Linked DNA regions of Homo sapiens. The protein of the gene in region 1 interacts with the protein of each later gene in a pairwise test. Each region holds a gene or a part of one and is shown in the gene's direction. Other genes may lie near its edges. The genes, in order: SDC2, MAPK8IP2, MICOS10-NBL1 and ESRP1.

Region 1 (7,031 bases):
TGTAGTTCTTCCCCAGTCCTTTATTATTATTATGTGTGAATCACAGGAAAAGGGAGGGACGAGGTAGGCAGCATGTTGAACATGCTCAGTGACATACATTTTGAGGTCCCAAGTCCCTACTTTTGGAGCTGTATGATTTCAGGCAACAATCTCCTGGGTAGGCCCTGGAGATTGTTGAGATGATTAGATGAGCCAATGCTTAATAAAATGCTAAGCACAAAATGCCTGGCACGTAATAAACACCTAACAGCCACAGCTAATCCTTTTGAACCCGAGGCTGAATGGTCTGATGTCACTCATGTTGTGGGGCATGACAGTGCAGCAGAAAGAGCCCACACTTAGGTGTCAAGAGCTTCGGGCTCCAGTTTGGCCACCAGCTAGACCAGAGGACTTTTGAGCTACTTTGCTACTCTGGTGTTCTGTTTCTTCATTTGTGAAATAAATCAGTGATCTTGGTGACTATAGTGTCCAGTCAAGCTCTAAAATTGTATGTTCCTTTGGGCTAGACCTAAGCCAGAATTGACAAGTTTAGCTTAAGGACAGGTATATCATCTCTGAGTGACTGTGTGGGTGACATAAATTTTTAGCTAATTATTATTTCCTTTACAATGTGTGTTGCTAGTAATAAAATAGTTTACTGAGTCACCTATGGAAAGATAAGCTACAGTTATAGCCTTTTTGGCACTTTGTAATCATCATAAAAGTTAATATACATTTGAGTCATAATTGGAGTTGGACTGCCTTTACCGTAAAACAGGAGGCATCATCTAGATGTTTGTTGTCTGTGATGTGATACAGAAATGTATTATTAGGCCACATGGATATTTTATTTTTATGTTCAAAGGCTAATTTTCTGAAAGTTGGGTCTGGGAGTCTGAGTTATCCATAATTAAGTTTTCTACCTTCTGCTTTCGTTGTTAACCTGAGTTAAAACCATAAAGTAAATTCGACATTTACTAATTTGAGCTTTAATTATTTTGACCACTGTGTTGGTTGCACTGGTTGAAAGCATGTGCAGGACCTCTGCTTAGTAGGTAAGGCGTTGTGTTTTTTAAACAAGGCTTTGAATTTCTAAATAACAGATTTCCACACTGGCAGTTTGAAACATGGTATTTGTTCAGTGTAGGTTTTACCTACATGAGAAAAATCAAACAAATAGATTTGTTCAGTTGCTATCCTACAAATTGTCTTCGCTGAGAAAATGGACAGGTTTGTGATGTTTCTGACTACATCAAGACTCTACTACACTTGATCTTTTGTGTATTGAATTAACACTTGTTCTTGTCATTTTTATTACAACTACCGTATAAGTTTGGGCTGAATCATTTTATCAAACTCTAAATTTTTATCATCAAATGTGGAAGGCCTAAATCACCATCGCTGTCCTCAATTTTCCAACCTAAAGGTGTTTATTTCCTCTTAGGGGTATAATACGAAGGAAAGTAGTGTCACCAGATCTCTTCTTGGTGTTTTTGTATTGGTGCCTGGGGTTTGGGTAGAGGAAGCAGCAGCAGCAGCTGAGACTAGAACTGCAGCTGAGGCCACTTGGTAAAGAACTTTTTTCCAGGCTAAGGACTTTTGTTTTGTTTGTTTGTTTGTTTGTTTGTTTGTTGTTTGTTTTTTGAGACAGAGTCTCCTTGCTCTGTCTCCCAGGCTGGAGTACAGTGGCGCAGTCTTGGCTCACTGCAGCCTCTGCCTCCCAGGTTCAAGTGATTCTCCTGCCTCAGCCTTGCGAGTAGCTGGGATTACAGGCACCTGCCACCACACCCGCCTAATTTTTGTAATTTTTGGTAAAGGAGTTTCACCATGTTGGCCAGGCTGGTCTCAAACTCCTGACCTCAGGTGATCCGCCCGCCTTGGCCTCCCAAAGTGCTGGGATTACAGGCGTGAGCCACTGTGCTAGGCCCAACTAAGGAGTTTTTATGTCATCCTCTATGTGGCAGGGAGCCAATAAAGGCAGGAGAGTGATACGATGATGTTTGAGTTCAAGAACAGTCCCTCTGCATCGAATGGCTTCAAAGACACGGACGTGGGCAGTGACAAGGTCAGGAGGCCTTAGTCCAGGTCCAGGCCCAACATGATGAGTTAGCCAGAGCCGGGGGGCCAGAGGCAAAGGGGTGGAGATAGGAGACAAGTATGTATCTTGCCTTCCTTCTAGGCATTGTGGGTTTACACAACTGAATCAGATGCGCATTCTCCTCTGGGAATTTCATCTATGGAGGCAGTGTAGTGCTTCAGTTTCCCTGGCTGAATGTGGCATTACGCAGAACCCTCTATCTGTCTGCCGCACATTTTCCTCTTGGTCGTACCTTGTTGCTTTCCACAGCCTTCCTTTGCTCTCCTGTATTCACATCTTGCATCAGCCAAAAGGGAAAGGTCTGAAAGACCAGCTTTGTTTTTCTCCCAGCTTGTACTCTGGACCCTGTTAGCCAACAGTATTGGCACTGCCTCACAGCGATGGTCAGTCCCAAATTAAACAGCCTCGTTATGACACCCTACAGCCAGGCTGCAGCTCTGGACTTGTGCTTCTGCACGTTTCCTTCCAGTTGCTTTCGTCCAGCGTCTCGGTCCCATTGAGTAAGGGAGTGTGTGCAGAGTATGTCCCGAGGTTTTCTCCTCAGTCAAGCAGACTACATTTCGCCAGGTGTAAAATCGGTAGTTTCGAATTCACCCCTTTTCATGGCCTTGAGGAGATGCTTGTCTCCTTGTCCCAAGGGAATATTGGTGCATAAATCATTTCCCGTCCTAGGCATGTTCATTCCAGAAACCTTTCAGAACAGAGTGTGGAGTCTTCATAAAAGGAATTTGTCATGAGCGCAGGGGTTTTTTTTTATTTTTTATTTTTTAAAGGGGAAGGCAATAGAGGTATTCATTATCTGCTACAGAGTGAAAAGGGCCCTGCTTTATGTTAAATTGGACTTCATGGAAAGATATTGGTAATTTCTCCTATGTTCTTTGTGCTCCTGAAATCAGAGTGGGAGAGAACTTTGATTTCAAAATTATTTTCACCACCCTGGATCACAGAGAAACACACTTTTGGCTGCCTTTAAACACATTAAACATCTGGTCAGCCCAGAGACCACCCGGGAGCCCTGTAGACCCCAAGTAACTGAGTGGCTGAGGGTAAGCCAGCTTCTCTAGACACACCCTGACTTCCACCCCAAGTCTTGTTGAAATACAGGCCTGACGGCTGTCCCAGGAAGTCAGTTGGCTTGTCAGACTGCCAGTGTGGTTGAACGGTGAGGTGGCTAGAATTCTCTGGGAGGCATTTTTGGCCCATCTGCCTGGTAGCATGACAGATGTGTTAGTCCAGACAACTGGGTCATCGAATGAATTGAAATTCAATTTACACATAGGGATTAAGTATCTCAGTATTACCCTTGCCACATCAAACTTCATTGACAGAGCCAAGAGGAAAATGAAAGTCATTCAATGTTAAGAAAAGGGAAACAAGATTCTAACATGGAAAGGGAATATTTTGCTTACTTTTAAGACTGTAGGTTACTTAAATAGATGCAATGCAAGCTATAGGAGGTTTGGGGCAGATGGTCTCCTAGGCTTAAAATGGAGAGATTTTAAACTACGAGGATCCTGGAGGTCTTGTGACATGTAACTCTGAAACCTCAGTCCAAGGCCAATTTGGTTTAAGTAATCTCAGTCAAATATTTATTTTGTGGCCATGCATTTTGAGAGGGACAGAGAACACAGGTCATTCAAAACATGCCTTCAATGAGTTGTACTCTGCTGAGGGGCAAGAAAAATGCACATGAAACAATGAAAAGTAACAGTGAGGGTTTATGTCTTAAACTGTTCATATGCTACAAAATCCTAAAATAGTACTTTATAATTAGGAGGTGTATAAGGAGTGGAGAAGTCACAGCCTGTTTCATAGTAGCCAGGATTTGAGAGAAGAAACCAGGAGGTCCTCCAGGGGAAGTAAATGGGACAAAGTTTAAGACAAGCAGGACGGAGAATGGCTTTTTCATGGGAGCACGAATGGTGGTTCAACCCAAGCGGTGTTTACTGAGCATCTACTATATGCCAGGCACTGTGACTGGGGGAGGGAAGCCTTGCCTTTAAAGGAGCTGAGAGCCTAAGAGGAGGCAGTTGATGATAGAGCTGTAGAACACAGGGCTCCTGACACAGTTCACAAGCTTTGGGAATTACAATCTGGAATGGTGATAGCCTTGGAAACCAGTGAAACAGGGTGGCGTCAGATTGCAGAGTTAAGCTCTGACCATTCTACTAGAAAAGTTGCAGCACACTCTTGGCTCAGGGTGGTCCAGGCCACTGGAACACCAGTCCCTAAGGTTTCAGTTCTCAGAATCCACCAGTGTGATAGCTCAAACAAAATAGATTCCCATGCTTTGCTTTCAGTTGGCACTGAGGCCTGGTGGAGAATGTGGGCTCAGGTTTAAAGTGCTTTAGCCTTGCTAGCCAGCTGCTGAAACCTGAGAAAATAAAGTGGTACTGTTACAGAGGGTTGGACCTGTCCTCTTAGGAAGGTTCCAATCACAGCGACTGCTGGAAGAGAAAATTTTATTTTAAGATTAAATCTAATGAAAGCCAGTGTAGTAAGGGAAACATTATTTTATAATTTCTGTTAAGAGCAAACATTCTATATGATTTTTAAAAATAGAGCAATAATGAGTGTTGCCTGTTTCCAAACAAGCGTTGTTTAAAAGCTGCCTGTCTGCTTTATTATTTTTTTCCTGGGCTTTTGCGAGATAATGGTAGTAAAATATCAATTTACTAAAACCATTTTTTAAAGTCTTATACCTCTACTCTGTCTCCAGTTCATGCAAGTTCTTCTTTTGGCAGGATTAGGTTGAATTTTAATACTAAACTCTTACTGAAGAGTTAAGAAGCTGTGGAACTGGTATACTTAGTGACTGATCCCTCTCCATATTAAGCGTGTGATTTGCTATTACCAGTTGCCAGTAATAGAAAAAGAATGTGCTCGTGTGGGTTTATCTGTATTTGTCATTAAGGCTTTGCTAAGCCAATGAGCCCTAGAAGCAGGCGTGCAGTGGGCTTTCTCCCTGTCAGGTGAGCCTCACGGGCGCTGCTCCTCTCCGGGCACTGTGGCTGGCCTCAGCACAGGTCTGGGCTGGGGTAGAAAGGCCTGCATGGCCTGAGGACCCAGGTGACTGGGGATCTCTCATCTGTAGCGGTAAAGTTCTGAGTATTGCCAGGCCTGCAAGCACTGGTAGGATTTGATGGATCCCTGGGTGATTATTTAGCCTAAGCTAAGCCGTAATACCTTTGCATACATCCCCAAGAAAGTCCTAAGTGTTTTGTTCCCTTTCCAGTAAGGGAGTGACAAAGAGAATGCCCAAGATGGCTTATAACTAGCATTGGGATGGCTGAAAGTCAGGTAAGTTTAGTGGAATGCAACAAAATAAGCCCAAGATAGGAGTTTAGATCTCCGAAATGTTTTCATTCTACTGGTTTAAGCTGTGTAGGCTTCCCTTGCAGGTTATTAGTCCGTGCTCACCTCTCAAATTGCTGTTAAGTTGTCAGGGTGCCTGAGGAAGACTGTGGCCAGAGATGTGGATTCAGACTACTGTGGGAGTGGGAGGGGTAGTCACTGCAGTATGTACCTGAACAATCAGATATACAAGTGTGTTTCTTAATCTCTCAACATCCTGACTCCCTTGTCTTTCCTTTCTCAGAGAGCAGAGCTGACATCTGATAAAGACATGTACCTTGACAACAGCTCCATTGAAGAAGCTTCAGGAGTGTATCCTATTGATGACGATGACTACGCTTCTGCGTCTGGCTCGGGTAAGGTGGCTGCTTCTAAACACTGGACCTCATTCTCCAGGCATGCACGCACACACATTTTACTGTGCTTACTTCAAGGAGACAGGCAGGATGCACAGTGGTTAAGGGCACCGTCTTTGGAATCAAAGGGCCTGGGTGCTAATTCTAGCTCTCTCTGCCACTTACGCTGTGAGATCTTGAGAATTTATTTGCTGAGCCTCAGTTTCCTCCTTTATAAAATGGAAAGTAACAATAGTCCTTACCATAGAGTTGTTGTGAGGATTAAAAGGGAGTTGACACATCTAAAGCTCTTAGATTTGGGGGCTTGGCACATAGTGCTCTGTCAACATTAGCTTTTAATCGTATTAAGACTTTCAGAGTGATGTCATGGAAACCACCCTTCAAGAAATCCCTCAAACACTGGTTTCATAAAACCACCTACCCTATGTTAAAAATTGTAGATGAGACCAAGAAGTTAATACGTTTTTATTCCTAGGGTATTGTAGGAGGAAAATGCAGCAGCCAAGTAAAATGATTATGTAGTGACATGATCAGATTCCTTAGTATATTATTCCTTAATAGTTATCTGTTACCACTCTAAGGCTACATAATAAACCACCCCAAAACTTGGTGGCTTAAAGTAACAGTCATTCATTTAACTTATTATTCTGTAGGTTGGTGATGTAGGCTGGGCTGGCTGGGCTCCCTCACATGTCAGTGGTCAGCTGCCGGTTGAGTGTACAGCTTTAGGTTGGGTTTGCAGCTTTCGGGTACTCATATCCCTGGGGCAGCTGAGCAGACTTGGGTTCTGTTCGTGTGGTCTCTCATTCTCCAGTAGGCAAGCTATTTTTTCACAGTAACAGCAAGTAGAAGTGTGCAAAGCCTCTTGCAGCCAGGCCTTAGAACTGGGCACAGCATCACTTTTACTACATTTTACTGGTTGAAGCAAGTCAGAAGGCCAGAACAGACTCCACCTCTTAGTGAAAGGATTCATAAAGTCACATTTACAGAGGATATGTATACACGGAGGATTAAGGGATTCTGGTCACATTTACAATCTACCATAATTGATGAATATTTCCCCTGTTCTCAGAATGGCCCCTGTATGAGTTCATTCTCACCCTGCTAACAACACAGGGACTGGGTAATTTATAAAAGAAAAGAGGTTTAGTTGACTCACAGTTCAGCATGCCTGGGGAGGTCTCAGGAAACTTACAGTCATGGCAGAAGGGGAAACAAACATGTACTTCTTCACATGGTGGCAG
Region 2 (7,777 bases), on another chromosome or scaffold:
CAGCTCACACTCAGCATCCACTGCCAACCTTCTGAATGAACCATCTCAGACCTCGAGCCAGGCTTACCTCCAACTGCAACCAAACCTCAAAAGAGACCCAGGCAAGAACTTCCCATTGGAGTCCTTCCTGAATTTCCACCCTCAAAACAAACAATTGTAAATAACAACTTAATTGTTTTAATCCACTAAATTTGAGGATAATTTGTTACACAGTAATAGTAATTGAAGCACATTTCTTATGGAGTTAAAAAAAAAAAAAAAGGCTTGACACAGTGGCTCACGCCTGTAATCCCAGCACTTTGGGAGGCTGAGGTGAGTGGATTGCTTGAGCTCAGGAGTTTGAGACCAGGCTGAGCAACATGATGAAACCCTGTCTCTACAAAAAATAAAAACATTAGCCAGGTGTGGTGGCACACATCTATAGTCCAACTACTCTGAGGAATGAAGTGGGAGAATTGCTTGAACCTAGGAGGCAGAGGTTACAGTGAGCTGAGATTGCACCACTACATTCCTGCCTGGGTGACAGAGCAAGACCCTGTCTCAAAAAAAAAAAAAAGTGGGTATTGTAGTAATGCAGCAAGAGACCAAGAAAAGTAGGAGGTAGTGATCAGAGACCTGGCTGCATAAAAATGAAGATTCGGGAAATGGTGGCGTTAGGACTTCACCATGGTGAAGGTAGAACTCTTAATTTTCATCTTTATTAAATGTGTCTGTTTGCAGTTTTAACCATTGGCATATTTATTTTGTGTTTGTGATTTCTGTGAAATATGAGTACAATAAATACTGATAGTTTGCATTTGTTTTCTAATCTCTCAGAAAGTTGTCAGAAAATGTTCTCTGACTTTTTAGAATTGCTGTGGTCAGGACTGTGGAAGCTGTTGCGATTCCAACTCTCCCTTCTAAGTCCAATCAATTTTGTGCTTTGTAATGTCTATGCCATTCGTGCACCATAGAGGGAAGAAAGCGTTAAAATGGTCGCGTCACAACATCTTGATTTGTCATTGAAGGAGAAGGAGTCTGGAAGGACGCTGACAACGGGTGGTGGTCAGGAAGGAAAACCCAGTGCCTGTGGCCCAGAGGCTGGAGGAGGAACTTCAAGGAGGGATGTTCAGCTCCCTGTGGACCCCCATTTGTTCATCCATACAATGATGCTCTGAGGAGCACACAAGGAAGGTGCAAATTTGATAAAATGTGCATGATGTAAGGAGCATAAACCCCCTCAGGAAAGAGTTGCTGCCTTTTCACTAATGTATCCCTGAGCTGCACAGAGCAGCCCTGGGGGACTGGGAGGACATGTCCCCGGTGTGAGGAGCAGGGGAAAGGTGAGCCTTAAATGATCACCAACAAACAACAGGGCCTGTGTCTGGGGCTTACACCACGACATGTGGTCCTCGCAGCACCATTGCTCAGAGGAAGAAACCAAGATCTCGAGGAACTGAGTAATTTGCCCACGTTCAACAAGTTGGTGCAAAATGAAGAGTGGCTCCCGTATTTCAGACTTTAAGGCCGACGATCTTCCATCTGTGCTCTGGGGGCAAGATGGGAGGTCCACAGATAAAATTGCGGGCGGTATCCCCCATCTCATGGTCTTTACGCTCATGGGACCTGGGAGTGACCATCTTTTAAGAGGGAGGGAAGGAAGGGGAGAGGCTTGAGGAAGGTTTTGGGGATTAGGATCTAAGATGAAATTTGAGACTATAAGACTTCAGATTGGATGCTGTGGCTCATGCCTGTCATCTCAGCACTCTGGGAGGCCATCACCTGGGCTTGGGCCCAGGAGTTTAAGACCAACCTGGGTAACATAGTGAGACCCTGTTTTTACAAAAACAAACAAAATGCCAGGTATGGTAGTGTGCACCTGTGGTCCTAGCTACTCAGAAGGCTGAGGCAGGGGGATTCCTTGAGCCCAGGAGTTTGAGGCTACAGTGAGCTAGGGACACACCACTGCACTCCAGCCTGGGTGACAGAGTGAGACCCTGTCTCAAAAAAAAAAAAAAAAAAAAAGATTTTAAGCTTGCTGCAATTCCAGATGAAGGTAGATCCTGGAGGCACTTTGTGGGAGAGGTCACTACACTTGAGTATTAAAGACTGTTGACAGATCAGAAATCAAGGAACTGACTGACCAGGGTATTGGATGGGTCATTTATGTGGATGTCCAGATGAACCAGTTTGGTGAAAAGACTCAGGATCAAAAGCCAATCTGGAAAGTTGAGGTCAAACTCTCTGTGAAATCTGGGAAGGGATCTGGATTTTTTGGGAAAGGCAGGGAGTGGTTAATAGGCCCAGACTCCCTCAGAAATGGGGAATGTTCTTAGTGCTTCTAAAAGGGAAAAGACTGTTATGGCAAAGACCTGATGCCCCAGACTGGGTTAGAGACCATAAGCTCTCTCATTCATTCATTCACATGTCTGCTAAGCACCTACTGTTTGCCAGGCACCATGCTTGGAGCCTAGGGCTTCACAGAGAGATGACAGCCTCTCTTCTCTCCAGCCAACCCAAGTCAAGAAGGCAAGCATAAACTAGTAAATGGCTTTTTTTTTTTTTTTGAGATGGGATCTCACTCTGCCCCCCAGGTTGGATGCAGTGGTGTGATCTCAGCTCACTGCAACCTTTGCCTCCTGGGCTCGGCCAATTTTTTTTATTTTTGGTAGAGACATGTTTCCAGGCTGGTTTCAAACTCTTGAGCTCAAGTGACGCACCCACCTTGGCCTCCCAAAGTACTGGGATTACAGGTGTAAGTCACTGTGCCCAGCCAAGTAAATGCCATTCTTAGAAAAATACTGTAATTGGCATAAAATATAAATTGTGATGGGACACCAAAGAGTGCAGGTTCAATCAGGCCCTGGCCACAGGCCTCTCTCTGAGCTGGAATGGTGATACCCCCCTTCCCGACTTGCATGAGCTCCTTCTGCCATGTCGTTTCTGGTGTTTGTCACTCAAGTGCCTTGTCCTTTCCTAAGGAATAATTTTCCAGGCCAGGGGCGGTGGCTCACGCCTGTAATCCCAGCACTTTGGGAGGCCAAGGAGGGCAGATCACCTGAGGTCAGGAGTTTGGGACCAGCCTGGCCAACATGGCAAAAACCCATCTCTACTAAAAACACAAAAATTAGCCGGACATGGTGGTGATTGCCTGTAATCCCAGCTACTCGGGAGGCTGAGGCACGAGAATCGGTTGAACCCGGGAGGTGGAGGTTACAGTGAGCTGAGATCGTGCCACTACACTCCAGCCTGGGCAACAGAGCAAGTTCTGTCTCAAAAAAAAAAAAAAAAAAAAAAAAAAAAAAAAAAAAAAGAATTTTCCGCAGAACTAAGACATAAAGAAATCTTAGGGCACATAACTTTCATCAAGGGGGAAAAGGGATTGCGCTTTTGTTGAAATGCCAGCCTCCTTCTTTAGCCAATATTTAGCCAGGTGCTGTGGTTCACACCTGTAATCCCAGCACTTTGGGAGGCTGAGGCCAGAGGATAGCTGAGCCCAGGAGTTTGAGACCAACCTGGGCAATACAGAGAGAGCCGGTCTCTCTCTCTCTCTTTTTTTTTTTTTGAGACGGAGTCTTGCTCTTGCCAGGCTGGAGTGCAGTGGCGCAATCTCGTCTCACTGCAACCTCCGCTTCCCGGGTTCAAATGATTCTCCTGGCTCAGCCTCCCAAGTCGCCGGGACTACAGGCGCCCGCCACCACGCCCGGCTAATTTTTTTGTATTTTTAGTAAAGACGGGGTTTCACCATGTTGGCCAGGATGGTCTCTGGTCTCGATCTCTTGACGTCGTGATCCACCCGCCTTGGCCTCTCAAAGTGGTGGGATTGCAGGCGTGAGCCACCGCGCCCAGCCACCGGTCTCTATTTTAGAAAGAAAAAAAGTGTCCTGCAGTCTCTCCCTAGTTCTGCGCCCTCAACCCTGATCTCCCGCCTCCTCCCACAGCCACCGTCTCGAGCTCAGCTTCAACCATGGCCCTCCCCACAGGGCTCCATCCCAAGCCAGAGCGGGTCAGTTCCCTACACAGGGCCCAGCAACACGGTGCCCAAGAAAAAGTGTTTCCAGTGGGACGCATGTCGCCTCCGTGGGTGCTAACTTCTCCCAGTGCCCGTCGGTACGTCCGTCCGGCTGTGCAGTCTCTACTGAGTGCTCAAAGTCCACTTTTAGCCCCAGCCAGCATCCTCTGAGTACCTTGTGCTCGATTCTGAATCCAGCCCTGCTCGGCGACCCTCGTGCAGACGTCCCCGTGCAGCCCCGGTCAGCACCCCGTGGGGACAGCTCCGATCAGCACCCGACGGCGGACAGCTCCTCCCGCGCCTCCCGCCTCGCCCGCCACCCCGCTCCGGGCCGCACCCGGGTTAGGGTTCCTGGGGGGATCCTGGGCGCGGCGGCGCAGCTCCCGGGGCCGCCCCGGCCTCTCGCCCAGAGGAAACAGCCCACGGCGAACCCGAGGCCCGCGGACCCCGGCGCTGCCTCCTCGGCCTCCCGCCCCGCGCGGGTCCTCCAGGGCGGGGCCCGACGCCCACCCGCCCGCCCCTTCCCTCCCGCCCCTCCCCGGGAAAAATCCTCATCGCACGCCCGGCCCTTCCCCAACCAGCGCCCGGCAGTGAAGCCGCCGCCTCTCCTCCAACCAGCGTCCCCGGCCGCGTCCCTCCCCCGCCTCCCCCGCCGCCCTCCCCGCGCCGCCGCGGAGTCCGGGCGAGGTGCGCGGGGCGGACGCCGCAGGGCGTGTCACGAGGTGAGCGGGGCGGGCCGAGCGCCGGCGCGGGGCGCGGCGAGGCTCCCGCACCCCCCGCCGCAGTCGCGGGCCTCTCCCGGAGAAGATGGCGGATCGCGCGGAGATGTTTTCTCTCTCCACCTTCCACTCGCTGTCGCCGCCGGGCTGCAGGTACCCCCCTCGGCGCCCGGGCCGGGCGGACCCTCCGCTCCCTGCGCACCCCCCCGACCCCGACCCGGCCCGGACCCCCGTCCCCGCCGCCCCAGCCCCGCCGCCGGCGCGGACCCGGCCCCGGCCCCCTGCGGTCCCTGAGCCTCGGCTCGGGCGCCCCACCCCCACCCCGCTCCCACTCCCTCCATCTTCACCGCGCGTCCCCAGCCTCAGTGACCCCCGGGCCCCGCCGGGATTCTGAGCCGCGCCCGGCCTGGACGGCTGACCTGTCAAGGGTGGAGGCCCTGGGCCGACCCTCTGCGGGGGAGGATGCGGGCGGGATGCGGGCACACCCTCCCGGCGCGGCGTGTCCCGGTGGCCTTGGCCTCTTTCAGTGGACGCCAGACCTGGCCGATAGGGCCCGGCCGGGAGAGAGTGGAAATCAAGCCCGGAGCCCTGCGGGAAGGGACTGGGGTTGGGAGGACGCTGGGCCTCTGGGTTTAGGCCTCACTCCGCCGGAGAGGGGGAGACAAACAGGCCAGACTCTCTTCCCAGAGCAGGAGCGACCCCTCCCCATCTGCCGCTGCCGCGTTGCAGCTCCCCCTCCCCTGCTCTGCAAGACCCTGACCCCAGGGGCCTGGAGCTGCGAGTGGAGGGAGGAGAGGCTGCTGGCTCTCCAGGGAGGCGGGGTGGGAGGGGTGGGGGCAGGGTTGGCTCCTCCGGGCAGGCCTGGCTCAGATGGGGGAGGGGATCCACAGGCGAGCAGAGCTTGGGGGTCAAGATGATGGCAGGATGTGTTCCGAGAGCTGGGGGCTGTGGAAACCACTGGGTGTAGGAGCTGACGCCTCCCTCTGCCCCTCCTCAGGGCCAGTTGCCAGGCAGGGAGTCCAGGGTTGGTGGCTCTCTGACCCTGGTCTCCTTTCCAGGCCTCCCCAGGACATAAGCCTGGAAGAATTTGACGACGAAGATCTGTCTGAGATCACTGATGACTGTGGCCTGGGCCTCAGCTACGACTCAGACCACTGTGAGAAGGTGGGAGAAGAGTTGGGGACACAGATCCAGCTCAAGGGAGGGCCTCATTAGGTTCTTCTTAGCGTTCACTTGGGGTTTTAGGGTGGGTGTGAGCTCAGCCTTGAACCGGGGACTCCTCTGATGGCTCCTCCCCACTTAACCCTTGAGGTTTCCTTGGTATCAACTCTCTCTTATTCCAACACATTGCAGGCCTCCACGCAGGGCCTTCCCCAGCATTCTCCCCGACCCCATCGGTGGCCAGCCCGGGGCAGGGAGGTGCTCCTTTGCTTTGGGTGCCCTCTGTCCTCAGATCACTCCCAGAAAGATCTAATCCCTGGCAGCTGCCATCACAACCTTGTCCCCTCTGCAGCCCTGTGCCCTCGTCTGCAGCTCCCATCTGTCTGTTTCATGTCTCCCCCTGCTGAAATCTTTTCTCGTCCATCTCTTGCTTCTCCTCCTCCCTGTCTCTCCACATTTCTGCTTTCATTTATTGAAGAACATTTCTGAGCAACTGCCATGTGGCAAGTACTGGGGGCTTCTGGGTGCTGGGAGTGGAACAGGACAGCTGCTCTCTGGAGCTGCAACTTAGTAGGGGAGAAAGACTTGTAAGGGACAATGGCTGCCCACGTGTCAAGGGCTGCATTCCAACAGGGACATAAGTTCCACGAGGGGGAAGGGAACCCAATCCACACTGAAGGAATCAGGGAGAATTTCCAGAGGAAATGTCAACCATGCCCTGAGGTTAGCAGAGCCAGGCAGATGGGGTAGGTAGGAGGGAATGGAGGAGAGGAAGTGCCAGCATGGGGAATAACTGTGCCAATGGCCCTGGGGTTGGCGCAAAGTTGGTGAATCCTCAGAGTGCAGAGGCTGTCTCTCCATTTCTGCATCTGTTTGATGTTTACTGAACATCCGCTGAGCCCCAGGTCTTGTTCTTGGGGGCGGGTGCAACAGTGCATAACATGGACATGACCCTGCCCTGGTGGGGCTTGCAACAGACCAAAAACCATGTCCAGTAACTGTAAGTTGTGTTAAAACGCTGCGAAGGGAACACAGTGCTGGTGTCAAATGTGATGGGGTTCTGCAGTTAGATGAGTCTGAAAGTGGGGCTGGGGCTGCTCTGAGAATCCCTGTCATTCAGCTGTAGAGTTTAGGCCCTTCCCAAGAACTGGAGTGATCCCAATGTGTGTTAGGCAGATTTTGAAAACATCGCCCTGTAGACAGAGGGGCAGAGTGAGCTGGAAGGGGCTCTCCTTTGACTGATGCTCCCCGATTTCCCTTCTCCTAGCACCTGGGCCCCTGGGCTACTGCTGCCCTCTGGCCCAGCCCTGCTATCTCCCTCCGTCCTGCAGGACAGCCTCTCCCTGGGGCGCTCGGAGCAGCCGCACCCCATCTGCTCCTTCCAGGATGACTTCCAGGAGTTTGAGATGATCGATGACAATGAAGAGGAGGACGATGAGGACGAGGAAGAGGAGGAGGAGGAGGAGGAGGGAGATGGGGAAGGCCAGGAGGGAGGAGACCCTGGCTCAGAGGCACCTGCCCCCGGGCCCCTTATCCCCTCCCCTTCCGTGGAGGAGCCCCACAAGCACCGGCCCACCACCCTCCGTCTGACCACACTGGGGGCCCAGGTGAGTGCCCGGACCCACAGCTCCCTGGAGCTGAGCCTGGGTTCATAGCACCTGGGCTGCAGCCAGCCCTGCTCACCCCCTGGGAGCTGGCCCTCCTCAGGACCGCCGTCATGTATCTCCACCCCAGGACTCCCTAAACAACAACGGAGGCTTTGACCTGGTGCGTCCGGCCTCCTGGCAGGAGACAGCGCTATGCTCACCCGCCCCGGAGGCCCTCAGAGGTGAGGGGTGGTGGGCCCGCGGGGCGCGGGGAAGCGGGGGAGGAGGGCAGGGAGGATGGACTGGCTGCTGGAAGAGGC
Region 3 (7,000 bases), on another chromosome or scaffold:
ATATTTATTGAGCTGTGGGTCAGTCAGCGGGCAAATAGAGAAGCATAAGACATTTCACTGCCCTCAACAGGGAATTGACGTAATATATTAGGTTGCCATTAAAAAAAAAATTGGCAAAGACCACAGTTACTTTTGCACCAACCTAGTAAATGAAATTTTAGTATGATTGTTCTGGCAGAATGAATTTGGAGCAGAGGAAACTAGCAGTACTGTGATTGTGAGGTGATAAAAGTCTGACCTGTTAGACTGGAATAAATGGGCATATTTGAGAAATTTCAAACTTTTTCCCATCTGTGAAATAAGGGAGTTGTCCTGTTGGTGATGGGCTGAGAGAGAGGGCGGAAGAGAGAAGAAGTAAGGGAGGCTTTAGTCTGAGTCGTCTTTGAAACCATGAAGGTGTACGCTCTTCTATAGTGAGCGTGTTGCTTCCTGTTTTCTCTGGGTAGTGAGGTTCTGGAACTCTTTAAACCTCATTGGCTGCTTGCTTTTCTGGTATTTCAAAATGGAGATGGAGACTCAGGGAATGGCAGCCTGTCATAAGATAGGTAAGAGGTTTGGTGGAAGACATAGACAGGAAGAAAAGGCCAATGCAGGCTTTCAGCTCCATCTTGATAATTTCACTGTGGGTTTTTGTTGTTTTTAAGACAAGGTCTCACTCTGTCACCCAGTCTGGAGTGCAGTGGTGCAATCACAGCTCACCACAGCCTTGACCTCCAGAGCTCAGGTGATCCTCCCACCTCAGCCTCCTGAGTAGCTGGGACTGTGGGTACGCACCACCATACCCATCTAACTTTTGTATTTTTTGTAGAGATGGGGTTTCACCATGTTGCCCAGGCTGGTCTTGAACTCAGGGTCCAAACGATCCACCTACCTTGGCCTCCCAACGTGCCAGGATTACAGGCATGAGCCACCACACCTGGTCCATCTTGATAATTTCATACTCTGGCTTGGCAAAGACTGAAGGGAAGCCATGGTGAATGCACAGCAACTTCTGTGAGTCCTTCTCTGTTTGGTTGTCTTATACCTAAAGTGTTTTGCTTCCAGGGTTCACCAGGGTTATTTTCCCACCTGTTTGCTGTACGATGACTATTATAATCACTCGTGTTTAGCATAGGTGTTGTATAGCTGAGTTAAATAGCTTTCTTAAGCCTGTACTTTAGGCAGTGGTCCTTTAAAAAAGTAATCTTCAAGGATCTTTTCACCCTGAGGCTTGAATAATATCTTAATAGAAAATTATCATATGATTTTGTCCTGTAGGAAGAGGCATTTATTTATAAATACCCTTGCCCCCATTACTATCTTAAGAAAAGCAGTTCTAGGCCAGGCACAGTGGCTCATGCCTATAATCCCAGCACTTTGGGAGTCTAAGGTGGGAGGATCACTTGAGCCCAAGAGGTCGAGACCAGCCTGGGCAACATAGTTAGACCCATTGCAGCAAAAAATATATATATTAGCTGGGTGTGGTGGCATACGCCTATGGTACCAGCTACTTGGGAGGCTGAGGTGGGAGGATCTCTTGAGCCTAGAGGTTGAGGCTGCAGTGTGCTGTGATCGCACCACTGCACTCCAGCCCAGACGACAGAGCAAGACCCTTTCTCAAAAAAAAAAAAAAAGAAAAGAAAAAGGAAAAAAAAGAAAAGCAGTTATATTTTACCTGCTTATTCGGGTTTTAAAACCTCTATTTATTTTGTATCAAATAGTGTGGAAGAATAGGTGATTTCTAGTATGGTTTGAACTGATAAATTAAGCCCATGGATCTAAAAACAATAGCAAAAATTAAAACCCATCTTTCTCTTGGAAGGGAGCTCTGAGTGATGGGCACAGTGGGCCCTTACTTGTTACACATCCACTTCTCTTTTTTCCACTTTTTTAGCCCTTGTTGCTTTCTTTTTCTTTATTCCTGTCACATTTTTACACTTCTTTTTGACCTCTATTCTTATTCCTGCCACTGCCACTACATACATTGCCTAGTTCATCTATAAAGTTTGACATTGATAGGTCTTTTTTCCTTAGTAACCCTGTTAGCATTTAAGAAGTTCCTAGGTATTCTATTTATTCTTTATCACATCATTTTTCTTAATAGCATGTTTCACCATTTGAAATTTGTAATTGGTTTCTTTACTTGATTGTTTCTTCTCCCTGGAATGTAAACTTCATAAGAACCAGAGGCTGTTGTGTTCACTGTTGATCCCCTAACGCCTGGTTTAGAGGAGGCGTACAATAATTATTGTTAAATGAATGACATGTATTGCTGAGAATTTTGTAGACCGTTCTCTGCCCATATTTGCTTCTCAGAGTGTGTTTATTAACTGAATGAATTAGTATTTAACTGAAAAACTCCAAGTAAAGTAGATTTCTGCCCGTTCACATGTTTGATCATGTATCCTTGTGTTCTTGGGACTTATACCAACTTTTAATTTCATCTGGGAATGTAAATTAACTGTCAGTAGATCTTAATAATAAAGTAGTATTAAAAATGTTTGGGAATAGTCAACTGAGAAACATAAACCAGAGAGCACTTTTGTATTTAAACAAGTAGAGGGATGATGTTGGTTTAAGTGGTAGTGCCAAAGCCTTATTGCAGGAAATTAAAAAGGAGTGAAGAATATTACATTTTATGAATGGCATGTTCCGTTAGTTTTATGTGAATGCGTCATTAATGGGTTTTGCTTATTTTATGGATTTATTTTTAAGTTTTATCAGATTTATTAAATGCTCTGGCTTTCTTTATCCACTCAGTTCAAGGGCTGTGGTGTTTATTTTCCTTGTATGTATGGGTAATCTGTCTTAGTACCCATGAGCATGAATAAGTCACACATTTCTTATTAGTGAGGCTAGAAGGCATAGTGTCTTATCAACCTAGGAGACTTTAAATCGTTCTGGTCTCCACAGAGCCGATGTCCTCAGCTTGGGCTTGTCACCCTGGACTGGATGAGAGGTTATGTCTGTTTTCAATTTCCCAAGGAAAATAAGATTTTAGGAGATGAGAAAAGTCATAGACTTCCAGGGGCTGCTTCCCTGTGGTTTGAGAATTTATGAGCCCTACAGGTGTGGGTCACAGAAGCACTAGGCCGGGCTCGCTGGCTCACACCTGTAATCCCAGCACTTTGGGAGGCCGAGTTAGGCAGATCCCCTGAGGTCAGGAGTTCGAGACCAGCCTGGACAACATGGCGAAACCCCATCTCTACTAAAAATACAAAAAATTAGCCGGGCATGGTGGTGCATGCCTGTAATCTCAGCTACTGGGAGGCTGAGGCAGGAGAATAGCTTGAACCCGGGAGGTAGAGGTTGCAGTGAGCCAATATCCTGCCATTGCACCCCAGCTTGGGCAACAAGATTGAAACTCCATCTCAAAACAAACAAACAAACAAACAGAAGCAGAAACACTGTCATTGCCTCAGAATTCTGTTACAACTTACTCTTCTTGAATGCCGAAGGCTTGCACCAGCAGGCTGTGGACCTTTTGACCAAGTTGATGTTGCTTGTGTGACAGTGGCCTGTCCTCAGACTATGGATTTGCCAGAGGACGCTTTGAGGAAAATCTGATTCTGGCACTTCCTGGATTCATACGGAGGTCCTGGGAATCCCTAGTGTGACTTGGATAGCTTTAAAATTGGCTGTGTCCCTTTTCTCTTTGTTTTGCTCCAATGTGAGACCAGAGTAAGGAATATCTAGTCTTACTAATCCATGTATTGGTTTAGAATTCTAGTTTATTCTAATAGAAGTCAGGTTGTATGGCAACTCTGTATTTTAGCATTTGAAGAAATTCATTGAATGGTTAGCTGAAGAGTGACATGGTTGAATTTTTGATTTCAGAAAAATCATTGATGAGAATGAATCAGAGGGCTGGCTGGGATGAAGGCAGGGAGGAGATGTCATGGTGGAGGGAGAGGTCCCAAAGCTGGAGAGTTTCCTGGAAAAGACTGTCCTGGCAAGCCAGGTGTGTCAAGCACAACAGTGATTTCCGTTAGTAGCAAGAAAAAAGGCAAGCCATGGACATTTACAAGGAGCCCCTAGAATGTATTCAATTCAGTGAACTGTAGTGGCATACACAGTCATTTTGTTTTTCTTTTCCTCATTTTTTTCATTCAAAATAAATGTACCAGTAAATACCTCCCAGCCTCAGTTTTCTTATCTATAAAATGATAGTACTTGCCCCAGAGGGTAGTTGCAAGTGAGGATAAAATGAGATAATCTCTAGAGCAGTTAGGACGTTGCCTGTACTTACTAAATATTATTAACTGGAGGCTGAGTGTGGTGGCTCATGCCTATAGTCCCAACACTTTGGGAGGCTGAGGTGGGTGGATCGCTTGAGGCCAGGAGTTTGAGACCAGCCTGGCCAACAATGGTGAAACCCAGTCTCTACTAGACATACAAAAAATTAGCCAGGTGTGGTGGTACGCACCTGTAGTCCCAGCTACTCGAGAAGCTGAGGCATGAGAATCGCTGGAACCCGGGAGTAGCAAGTTGCAGTGAGCTAAGATGCAGCCACTGCACTCCAGCCTGGGCAACAGAGTGAGACTTGGTCTCAAATAAATAAATAAAAACTGGAGGCTGTCGCTGAAGAGTAGAGGTAAAAGAGTTAAAATGATTAACACATTTACCCTGATCTTGGCTATTGTGGGTCGTAGGTGGGTCTTATTGTGGGTCGTGGCTATTGTAGGTCTGATAATCAATATTCATGTTTATATATGTAATAGTAATCATTAATGTGTACTTCTTGAAACAATTTAGTACCAGGTATTGTGGTAAGCCTTGGCAGGGGGTGGCACACAGGTGAATAGGCACTGGCCCTACCCTCGAGGGGCTTACTGCCTTGAGGAATGTGAAAAGGATGAGGGACATTTGACCCCCATTTTGGAAAATATGCAGATATTTAATAGGTGGACCAGGTGGGGGAGTGTGTTTCACTCCTTGAAGGTGTCCCAAAGGAGAGGGATACTTTGGTTCCTTCTGGGAATGATGAGAATGACCATCACTTATTGAGCACTTAACCGCATGCCAGGCACGGTGCTGAGCATGTTATATTTTACATCATTATCTCATATCCTTGTAAGATATTTCTCCATTTTTACAATGGAAGCTCATGGTGGCAGAATCCCTCCTTTAGGATCACAGGCTACAGCTGCAAGGGTAGGAAGGTGAACCCCATTCTTGTAGCTATCACATGTTAATGCAGGAGATTTTATCCTTTGGGGTTAAAGGATTTATGTGGGGAGGGACAAAAGATGAGGCAGGAAAGGTGGAAGGGTGTAGGAAGTTGTGGAGATTTTTTAAACTACTTTGTTGAGATATATTTCATGGCATACATTTTCCTATTTAAAGTGTACAATTTTAGTTTTTTCACCAAATTGTGCAATTATCACAATCTAATTTTAGAATATTTTTAGCTTCCCCCAAAAGAAACACTGGATGCAGCTGCTCCTATTCCCAAACTCTCACCCCAACCTTAGCCCCAGGCAACCACCAATTTACTTTTTGTCTCTGTGGAGTCTCCTATGCTGGACATTTTACATAAAGAGTTATATAATATGTAGTCTTTTGTATCGGCTTCTTTGACTTAGGTAGTGTTTTCAGTATTCATCCATGCTGTTGCATTTATCTGTTCATCATTCTTTTTTGTTACCAAATAATGTTGTGTGGTGTATTTGTACTACATCTTGTTTATCCATTTGTCAGTTGGTGGACATTTAGTTTGTTTACGCTTTTAAATTTTATGAATAATGCTGCTGTGATCAAGTGTACACATTTTTGTTTTGTTTTGAGATGGGGTCTGTTTTGCCCAGGCTGGTCTCAAATTCCTGGGCTCAAGTGATCCTCCTGCCTCAGCCTCCTGAGTAGCTTGGATTACAGGTGCATGCCATGGTGCTCAGCCCCCCAGTTTTTATGTGGACATGTTTTCATCTCTCTTGGATATATACCTAGGAGTGGAATTGCTTGGTTGTGTGGCAATTCTATGTTTAGCATTCGAAGAAATTCATTGAATGGTAAGCTGAAAAGTGACGTGGTTGAATTTCTGATTTCAGAAAGATCACTGATGTGATGAGAATGAATAACTCTCTGGAGTGCTAGGATGTGGGGGCAGGGAGCTAGCTTAGTATATTATTGCAAAATCTTGCCAAAGATGAGCTGATCAAATGAGAGGAAGCATGAACTAAGAGGGGAGCAGCAGGAGTGGAAAAGAGAGATATAATGATGCTAGTACAGAGTTTATATTTACAGAACTTGAAATGCAGGCTCAGGAGTGGGAGGAGTCAGGTGGTGCCAAGCCTACATAAATGAGCATGGTGTTGCTTTTGACAAATAGGAGAGGCAGAGAGGGGAATAACATTTTGTAGTTTCTTAATTTCTAGTATGTCTTGAGATAGGTCTCTAATTATATGCAGCTCAGTTAACAGATGAAAGTTATTGGTTTATCATGCATTCATCTTTATGAAAAGAAAGGATTCGGCCTTGCTTCTTCCTTGTTACGAAAGTATGGCCAGGGCTGGGCACGGTGGCTCACACCTGTAATCCCAGCGCTTTGGGAGGCTGAGGAGGGTGGGTCACCTGAGGTCAGGAGTTTGAGACCAGCCTGGCCAATATGGTGAAACCCCATCTCTACTAAAAATATAAAAATTGGCTGAGTGTGGTGGCGCATGCCTGTAATCCCAGCTACTCAGGAGGCTGAGGCAGGAGAATCACTTGAACCTGGGAAGGTGAGGTTGCAGTGAGCCAAGATCAGGCCATTGCACTCCAACCTGGGCGACAGAACAAGAAGGCTCTGTCTCCAAAAAAAAAAAGAAAGAAAAAAAGTAGGACAGTAAAAGACTTAGAAGCTGACTTGCCTTAGAATTAAAGTTAACCAGCAGATTTTGTGTATTCATTCAATAATCAAGTCTAGTTAAATTGTTTGAAGCCATTTTAATGTTTAAAAAAATACTAAAAGAGGCCATTGAATAGTCATGGAAAAAGAAAGCAAATTATTGTTTTTCTTTAAGTATCAGTTCATCTGATAGAT
Region 4 (7,031 bases), 1.9 Mb from region 1:
TCCCAAAGTGCTGGGATTACAGGCGTGAGCCACCATGCCTAGCCTCACTAAATCTTAGTTCTACAACTGTTTGGTTTTGCTGTAATTTATCTGTCAGGGTTATTATGAGAATTGGAAGAAATAGGGAGTGGTTGGCACAAAATGGTGTCCAGTAAATGCCACCATTTAAGTCAGCAGATCCTTGGAAGCTATAGAGATGTTGATAGGTGGAAAGAGATCAGAGGAAGATGGGGGCCTACACCCAGGAAATGTTACAACAGTCGAGAAAATAGCATAACATTTTAGGAATAGTATCTAATGAACTCTTAAATTGACGATTGTGGCCTAGAACAGTTTTGGTGGGTCATTTGTGGCCTAATTTGGTTAGGGGATTAAGATAAGAGTGCTTTCCTTATAGGGTGGTACCTGAGCACTGTTGAGAAGGCTAGGTAATCCTGCCATTAATAGATGAGAGGAAAGCTTAATTTGAATGGAATATACTTTTATACTCCTTTCAAGTCTAAATTTTCCCCATATTCTTTTTTGAGATTGATTGACAAACATTCCTGTGGCATCCTTTGTATCTGGCCATCTTTTTGCAATCTCCATTCTTCTGTAATAGGTCACAGGTCAATAACCGTTTGCTATAAGGGGCTAGAAAGTCAATGTTAGGTTTTGCGGAGCACATTAGGGTCTGCTCACCCAGGTGCACCTTGTTTTAGTGTGCTTCACTTTATTGTGATTCACAGTTGTTGTATTTTGTCTTTTTTTAAATTTTCATCTTTTATTTTTGAGACAGCATCTTGCTCTGTCACCCAGGCTGGAGTGCAGTGGTGTACTTTTCGACCTCCCAGGCTCAAGCAATCCTCCCACCTCAGCCTCCTGAGTAGATGCAATGACAGGCCAATTTGTTATTTTGTAGAGATGGGGACTCGCTATCTCAGGCTGGTCTTGAATTCCTGGGTTCAAATGATCCTCCCACCTCGGCCTCCCAAAGTGCCGGGATTACAGGCGTGAGCCACCGTGTCTGGCCAGTTTTGTTTTGTTTAAAAAAAAAGAAAATGGAAGGTTTGTAGCAACTCTGCATTCAGCAAGTCTATTGACACCATTTTTCCAACAACATTTGCTCACTTGTCTCTCTGTCACCTTTCAAACTTTTTCATTATTCTGTTGTGGCGATCTGTAATCAGTGATCTTTGTTACTGGTGTAATTGTTTTGGGGCACCATAAAGCAGGGCCATATTAGGTGGCAAACTTAATTGGTCAGTGTTGTGTGTGTTCGGCTGCTCCAACTGGTGGTTACCCCATCTCTCTCCCTCTCCTTGGGACTCCCTATTCCCTGAAACACAATATTGAAATTAAGCCAATTAACCCTACAACAGCATCTAACCTTTCAAATGAAAGTAAGAGTTTCATATCTCTCACTTTAAATCAAAAGCTAGACATGATTAAGCTTAGTCAGGAAGGCATGTCAAAAGCTAAGGGAGGCCAAAAGCCAGGCCTTATGCACCAAATGATTTGTCAAGTTGCGTAAAGGAAAATTTCTTGAATATTCCAGTGAATATATGAATGATAAGAAAGCAAAACATTATAGGGTGTTACCTGAGCAAAGATGAGAAGGCTGGGTACCACTTGTCATTTATAGAAGAGAGGAAAGTGTAATTTGAATGGAATATACTTATTGCTATGATATGGAGAGAGTGTGAGTGGTTTGGATAGATCAAACTAGCTACCACATTTCCTTAAGCCAAAGCGCAATCTGGAGCAAGGCCTTAAGTCTCTTCAATTCTATGAAGGCTGAGAGAAGTGAGGAAGCTGCAGAAGAAAAGCTAGCAGAGATTGGTTTATGAGATTCAAGGAAATAAGTCAGCTCTACGACATAATTCAAAGTGAAGCAGAAAGTGCTTATGGAGAAGTTGCAGTGAGTTACCCAGAAGATTTAGCTAACTGATGAAGGCAGCTACACTAAGCAGATTTTCAATGTACTAGAAACAGCCTTCTCTTAGAAGATGATGCCATCCTGGACTAACATAGCTAGAGAGGATAAATCAATGCTTTGCTTCAAAAGCTGATTCTCTTGTTATAGGCTAATGTAGCTGGTGACTTTTAAGTTAAAGCTAATGGTCATTAACCGTCCTAAAAATCCTAGCGTTCTGAAGAATTATGCTAAATTGGCCGGGGTGGTGACTCATGGCTGTAATCCCAGCCCTTGGGCAGGCCAAGGTAGGTAGATCATTTGAGGCCAGGAGTTCAAGACCAGCCTGGCCAACATGGTGAAACCCCATCTCTACTAAAAAATACAAAAATGAGGTCGGGTGCAGTGGCTCACGCCTATAATCCCAGCACTTTAGGATACTGAGGCAGGTGGATCAGCTGAGGTCAGGAGTTCGAGACCAGCCTGGCCAACATGGTGAAACCCCATCTCTATAAAAATACAAAAATTAGCTGGGTATGGTGGCGCGTGCCTGTAATTCCACCTGCTCGGGAGGCTGAGGTAGAGGTTGCAGTGAGCTGAGGTTGTGCCACTGCATTCCAGCCTGGGCAACAGAGCGAGACTATCTCAAAAAAAAAAAAAAAAAAAAAAAAAAAAAAAAAACCAAAACAAACAAACAAACAAAAAACCAAAGAAAACCAAGAATTACAGTAAGTCAACTCTGCCTGTGCCCTCAAACAGCATCACAGGCTACCGAATCTTTGATGAAAGGAAGAGGCAATTGATGTGGCAAACTTCATTGTTGTCTTATTTTCAGAAATTGCCACAGCCATCCCAACGTTTAGCAACCATCACCCTGATCTATGAGTAGCCATCAACATCTAGGTAAGATCCTCCACCAACAAAAAGATTGACTCACTGAGGGCTCAGATGATTAACATGTTTTAGCAACAAAGTTGTTCTGTTGTTTTTTATTTTTGGAGACAGAGTCTACCTCTCGCCCAGGCTGGAGTGCAGTGGGGTGTTCTCAGCTCACTACAACCTCCACCTCCCGGGTTCAAGCGATTCTCTTGCCTCAGCCTCCTGAGTAGCTGAGATTACAGGCATGCACCACCACGCCTGGTTAATTTTGGTATTTTTAGTAGAGATGGGGTTTCACCATATTGGCCAGGCTTGGTCTCGAACTCCTGGTCTCAAGAGATCCTCCCGCCTCGGCATCCCAAAGTGCTGGGATTACAGGTGTGAGTCACTGTGCCCATCTGCAACAAAGCATTTTTGAATTAAGGCATGTACATTTTTTAAAAGACATAATGCTATTGAATACTTAGAACAGTCAAAACATAACTTTTATATGTAGTGGGAAACACAAAAAATTGTGTGACTTGCTTTATTGTGATATTCACTTTAATGCAGTGGTGTAGAACCAAGCCTACCATATTTTCAAGGTATGCCTCTATTTGATGGAAATACATCCTTATTTTAGAGAGATTCGCAAAACTTCATGTGAATTCCTGGTTTCACCCTCAAACCAAGTTTGAGCTATGTGTTTCAAAGAGTATACTTTTGGTAAAGAAGCACATTGGCCTGTGTTGGCTCTGAGTGCTTGAATTGTTTCCAAAATTTGCTGTCTAGAACTAGCATCTGCTGTCATCAAAGGTGGACTATCCTACAGGGCTCCAAAAGTGTTCTATAATAGAATTTCTAAGCAAAAGTGGCATTGTGGAAGTAATGTCACATCAATAATCTGTGGTGTCCATTTCAAACATTAGGCCAAAAAAAAAGTCATTTAATACCTTGTAGTGTTGATAATGTCACCATATCATGAAGTCGGCATGGTCATTGCCTTGTGTGTGCTGTAAAGATTCAGAGGATGAAATATTCTAATTAACTTTGTTGCATACTTTGATTCAAAATGAAATGAAAATGCTCAGTATTCATTTGCTACAACTGGGTAAATAAAAATTGTATTCCTGGTAATATCTCAGCACTGGATTGATTTGCCTCTTTTACCCAAAAGGGCAGTTGGAGCCTAAGTTGAATGACTGACTGATGGGAGGCAGCCATTCTGAGATTTCTAAAGGAAGCTCAGCTAGATCCATCTTCTTCCTCTTGGCTTGGTATAGGTTTAATTTTGATTTAGAAGTAACCTGATTTTACCTTTCCAAAGTGTTTCCTTAATTTAATCTCACAGATTTAAATTTTGAGAAGAGTAGTTCAGTCTCTCGATATGGAGCCTCTCAAGTTGAAGATATGGGGAATATAATTTTAGCAATGATTTCAGAGCCTTATAGTAAGTATTGCTTTTATAGTAGTGCAGTCCCAGAATTCATACTATTTTTCTCTTACCTATACTCAAATTTCCTCCTACAACTTTGTCTCCCTAATCACTAAAATGATGACTTTTATGTTCTCATTTTTAGATCACAGGTTTTCAGATCCAGAGAGAGTGAATTACAAGTTTGAAAGTGGAACTTGGTAAGTGCTTGAGTACTATTTATTTGAGCTTTTTAACTTGTTTTTTTTTTTTGTCTGTTTGTTTGTTTTTGAGACAGAGTCTTGCTCTGTCGCCCAGGCTGGAGTGCAGTGGCACGATCTCAGCTCACTGCAAGCTCCGCCTCCCGGGTTCATGCCATTCTCCTGCCTCAGCCTCCCGAGTAGCTGGGACTACAGGCTCCCGCTACCATACCTGGCTAATTTTTTTGTAGTTTTAGTAGAGATGGGGTTTCACCATATTAGCCAGGATGGTCTCAATCTCCTGACCTCGTGATCTGCCCGCCTCGCCTCCCAAAGTGCTGGGATTACAGGCGTGAGCCACCTCGCCCGGCCTTTAACTTGTTTTTGTTCATATTGTGCCTCTTAATTCTTGTTATATTTGAGAAACTTTACTAATCCTTTTAGCTATCCTTTCTTGCTGTTCGGTCATCTGTAAAAGAAGGTTGTATTACTTAGAGCTTGATATTGGGAATAAAATGTAATGACTTACTGGCATCTTTAGTCACCCTGACCTTAAGTATATTATATGCTCATATCTGTGATTGTTATTTTGGTCTCCCCAAACTATCCGATCTTTCATTTAGAAAATTTCCAAAGGAGAAATTGTAGGCTTTAATAGAGTTCACAATTTTTACTGAGATAAAATTTTACGTACATTCTATAAGTACATTTATTTATTTATTTATTTTAGTTTTGAGACACTTGCTCTGTTGCCCAGCTGGAATATCGCGGTGTGATCTCTGCTCACTGCAACCTCCGCCTCCCGGGTTCAAGCGATTCTTGTGCCTCAGCCTTCCCAGTAGCTGGGATTACAGATGTGTACCATCATGCCTGGCTAAGTTTTGTATTTTTAGTAGAGATGGGGTTTTGCCGTGTTGACCAGGCTGGTCTCAAACTCCTGGCCTCATGTGATCTACCCACCTTGACATCCCAAAGTGCTGGGATTACAGGTGTGAGCCATTGTGCCTGGCTATATAGGTTTCTACTTTAAAGCCAAGGAAATAGCTGGGGAGAAGTATGAAGTGGTGTCTGTTAGTGATCGCAGGTAGACCTGTTTGTAAATCACTCTAATGAATTGAGTGTGTGCTTGGTCTCTGAAGTGAATAGAAACTTCTGACAGCTTTGCCCATAGAGAGAGACTTTGAGGCCGATTAGTTGTGGAGAAAGTGACTTATTAAGAAAATGTCCTAGGAGAACTGAAAATGTGAACGTGGGAGGGATAAGACATCAAAAGGTGTCAAAATATATAATAAGTGATTTGCAAATGAGTCATTAAGGTGTAGGGACTCACAGGCATTTCTATGGACATTCTCTGGGATGGCTCCCTGGTTTGATCTGGGGGATATTTTAATGGCAGACTTCCTACCATGCACACACATTCCTCATGTGGGTTAATTGTCAGCTTTATTCTGATCCTAAATTCGGCTGCTAAACTGGATTTAAACCCCACATGTATACTGTCTAGATTTGAGAATGAATTCAAACCTATCTTTTGGGGTTCTAGGAACTTTCAGGACATGAGGGTGCCAAGCAAACATTTCCTCAGCTTTTTTTTTTTTTTTTTTTTTGAGAGGGAGTCTTGCTCTATTGCCCAGGCTGGAGTGCAGTGGCACAATCTCAGCTCACTGCAGCCTCCACCTCCCAGGTTCAAGTGATTTTCCTGCCTTGGCCTCCCAAGTAACTGGGATTATAAGCGTACACCACCATGCCCGGCTAATTTCTGTAATTTTAGTAGAGACGGGGTTTTACCATGTTGGCCAGGCTGGTCGCAAACTCCTGACCTCGGGTGATCCACCTACCTCAGCCTCCCAAAGTGCTGGGATTACAGACATAAGCCACCACGCCTGGCCTTCCTCAGCTTTGATAGATAGATGGTTTGCTGAGTGAGCTAGCTGTGTTGGGCCTGCACAGGCAGCCATGTTTCTATAATGAACCACCTAAACAGTACTTTGAGTTGTACCCACATAATTTTTGAGGTTATAAGGAAAATCAAGTAGTATTGCTAGTCTGTCTGAACACCAAATAATACATCCTGTGTAACTAGGCAGTTGTCTTGCAGGGGGTAATAGGTGTCTGACTTGCTAGCATTTATCATGCAACCTGAAGTTTTGCTTCATCCACAGCAGCAAGATGGAACTTATTGATGATAACACCGTAGTCAGGGCACGAGGTTTACCATGGCAGTCTTCAGATCAAGATATTGCAAGATTCTTCAAAGGACTCAATATTGCCAAGTTGGTTTTCTTAAATATCTATTTTACTTAACAATCCCAAAGGGATAATGGATTTTCTATCTTTTTTTTCCTCACTGTATTTTTTTTTCTACCTGCTGTCTGTTTTATTATTCTCAAAGGGGAGGTGCAGCACTTTGTCTGAATGCTCAGGGTCGAAGGAACGGAGAAGCTCTGGTTAGGTTTGTAAGTGAGGAGCACCGAGACCTAGCACTACAGAGGCACAAACATCACATGGGGACCCGGTATATTGAGGTATGTCCTCAAAACCTGAACCCCTGGACATCGTGAATGAGAATTAACATAGGACGGAAGGCTCAGAAACACTAACTTCTCTGTCTTTTCTCAGGTTTACAAAGCAACAGGTGAAGATTTCCTTAAAATTGCTGGTGGTA

Evidence for each region.
Region 2: the proteins of SDC2 (region 1) and MAPK8IP2 interact in binary tests that used the Homo sapiens proteins (3 or more experiments, as listed by UniProt).
Region 3: the proteins of SDC2 (region 1) and MICOS10-NBL1 interact in binary tests that used the Homo sapiens proteins (3 or more experiments, as listed by UniProt).
Region 4: the proteins of SDC2 (region 1) and ESRP1 interact in binary tests that used the Homo sapiens proteins (3 or more experiments, as listed by UniProt).

The regions. Positions count from the first base shown.
Region 1 is NC_000008.11:96,587,805-96,594,835, forward strand, and holds part of SDC2 (syndecan-2 precursor), read left to right. Parts: intron 1-5,675; coding exon 5,676-5,787; intron 5,788-7,031. UniProt on the Homo sapiens protein: Cell surface proteoglycan which regulates dendritic arbor morphogenesis.
Region 2 is NC_000022.11:50,596,021-50,603,797, forward strand, and holds the start of MAPK8IP2 (C-Jun-amino-terminal kinase-interacting protein 2), read left to right. Parts: upstream 1-4,772; 5' UTR 4,773-4,798; coding exon 4,799-4,863; intron 4,864-5,768; coding exon 5,769-5,874; intron 5,875-7,202; coding exon 7,203-7,478; intron 7,479-7,605; coding exon 7,606-7,699; intron 7,700-7,777. UniProt on the Homo sapiens protein: The JNK-interacting protein (JIP) group of scaffold proteins selectively mediates JNK signaling by aggregating specific components of the MAPK cascade to form a functional JNK signaling module.
Region 3 is NC_000001.11:19,599,979-19,606,978, forward strand, and holds part of MICOS10-NBL1 (neuroblastoma suppressor of tumorigenicity 1 isoform a precursor), read left to right. Parts: intron 1-808; 5' UTR 809-970; coding exon 971-993; intron 994-7,000. UniProt on the Homo sapiens protein: Possible candidate as a tumor suppressor gene of neuroblastoma. May play an important role in preventing cells from entering the final stage (G1/S) of the transformation process.
Region 4 is NC_000008.11:94,658,169-94,665,199, forward strand, and holds part of ESRP1 (epithelial splicing regulatory protein 1), read left to right. Parts: intron 1-4,103; coding exon 4,104-4,202; intron 4,203-4,332; coding exon 4,333-4,387; intron 4,388-6,528; coding exon 6,529-6,639; intron 6,640-6,758; coding exon 6,759-6,891; intron 6,892-6,985; coding exon 6,986-7,028; intron 7,029-7,031. UniProt on the Homo sapiens protein: mRNA splicing factor that regulates the formation of epithelial cell-specific isoforms. Specifically regulates the expression of FGFR2-IIIb, an epithelial cell-specific isoform of FGFR2.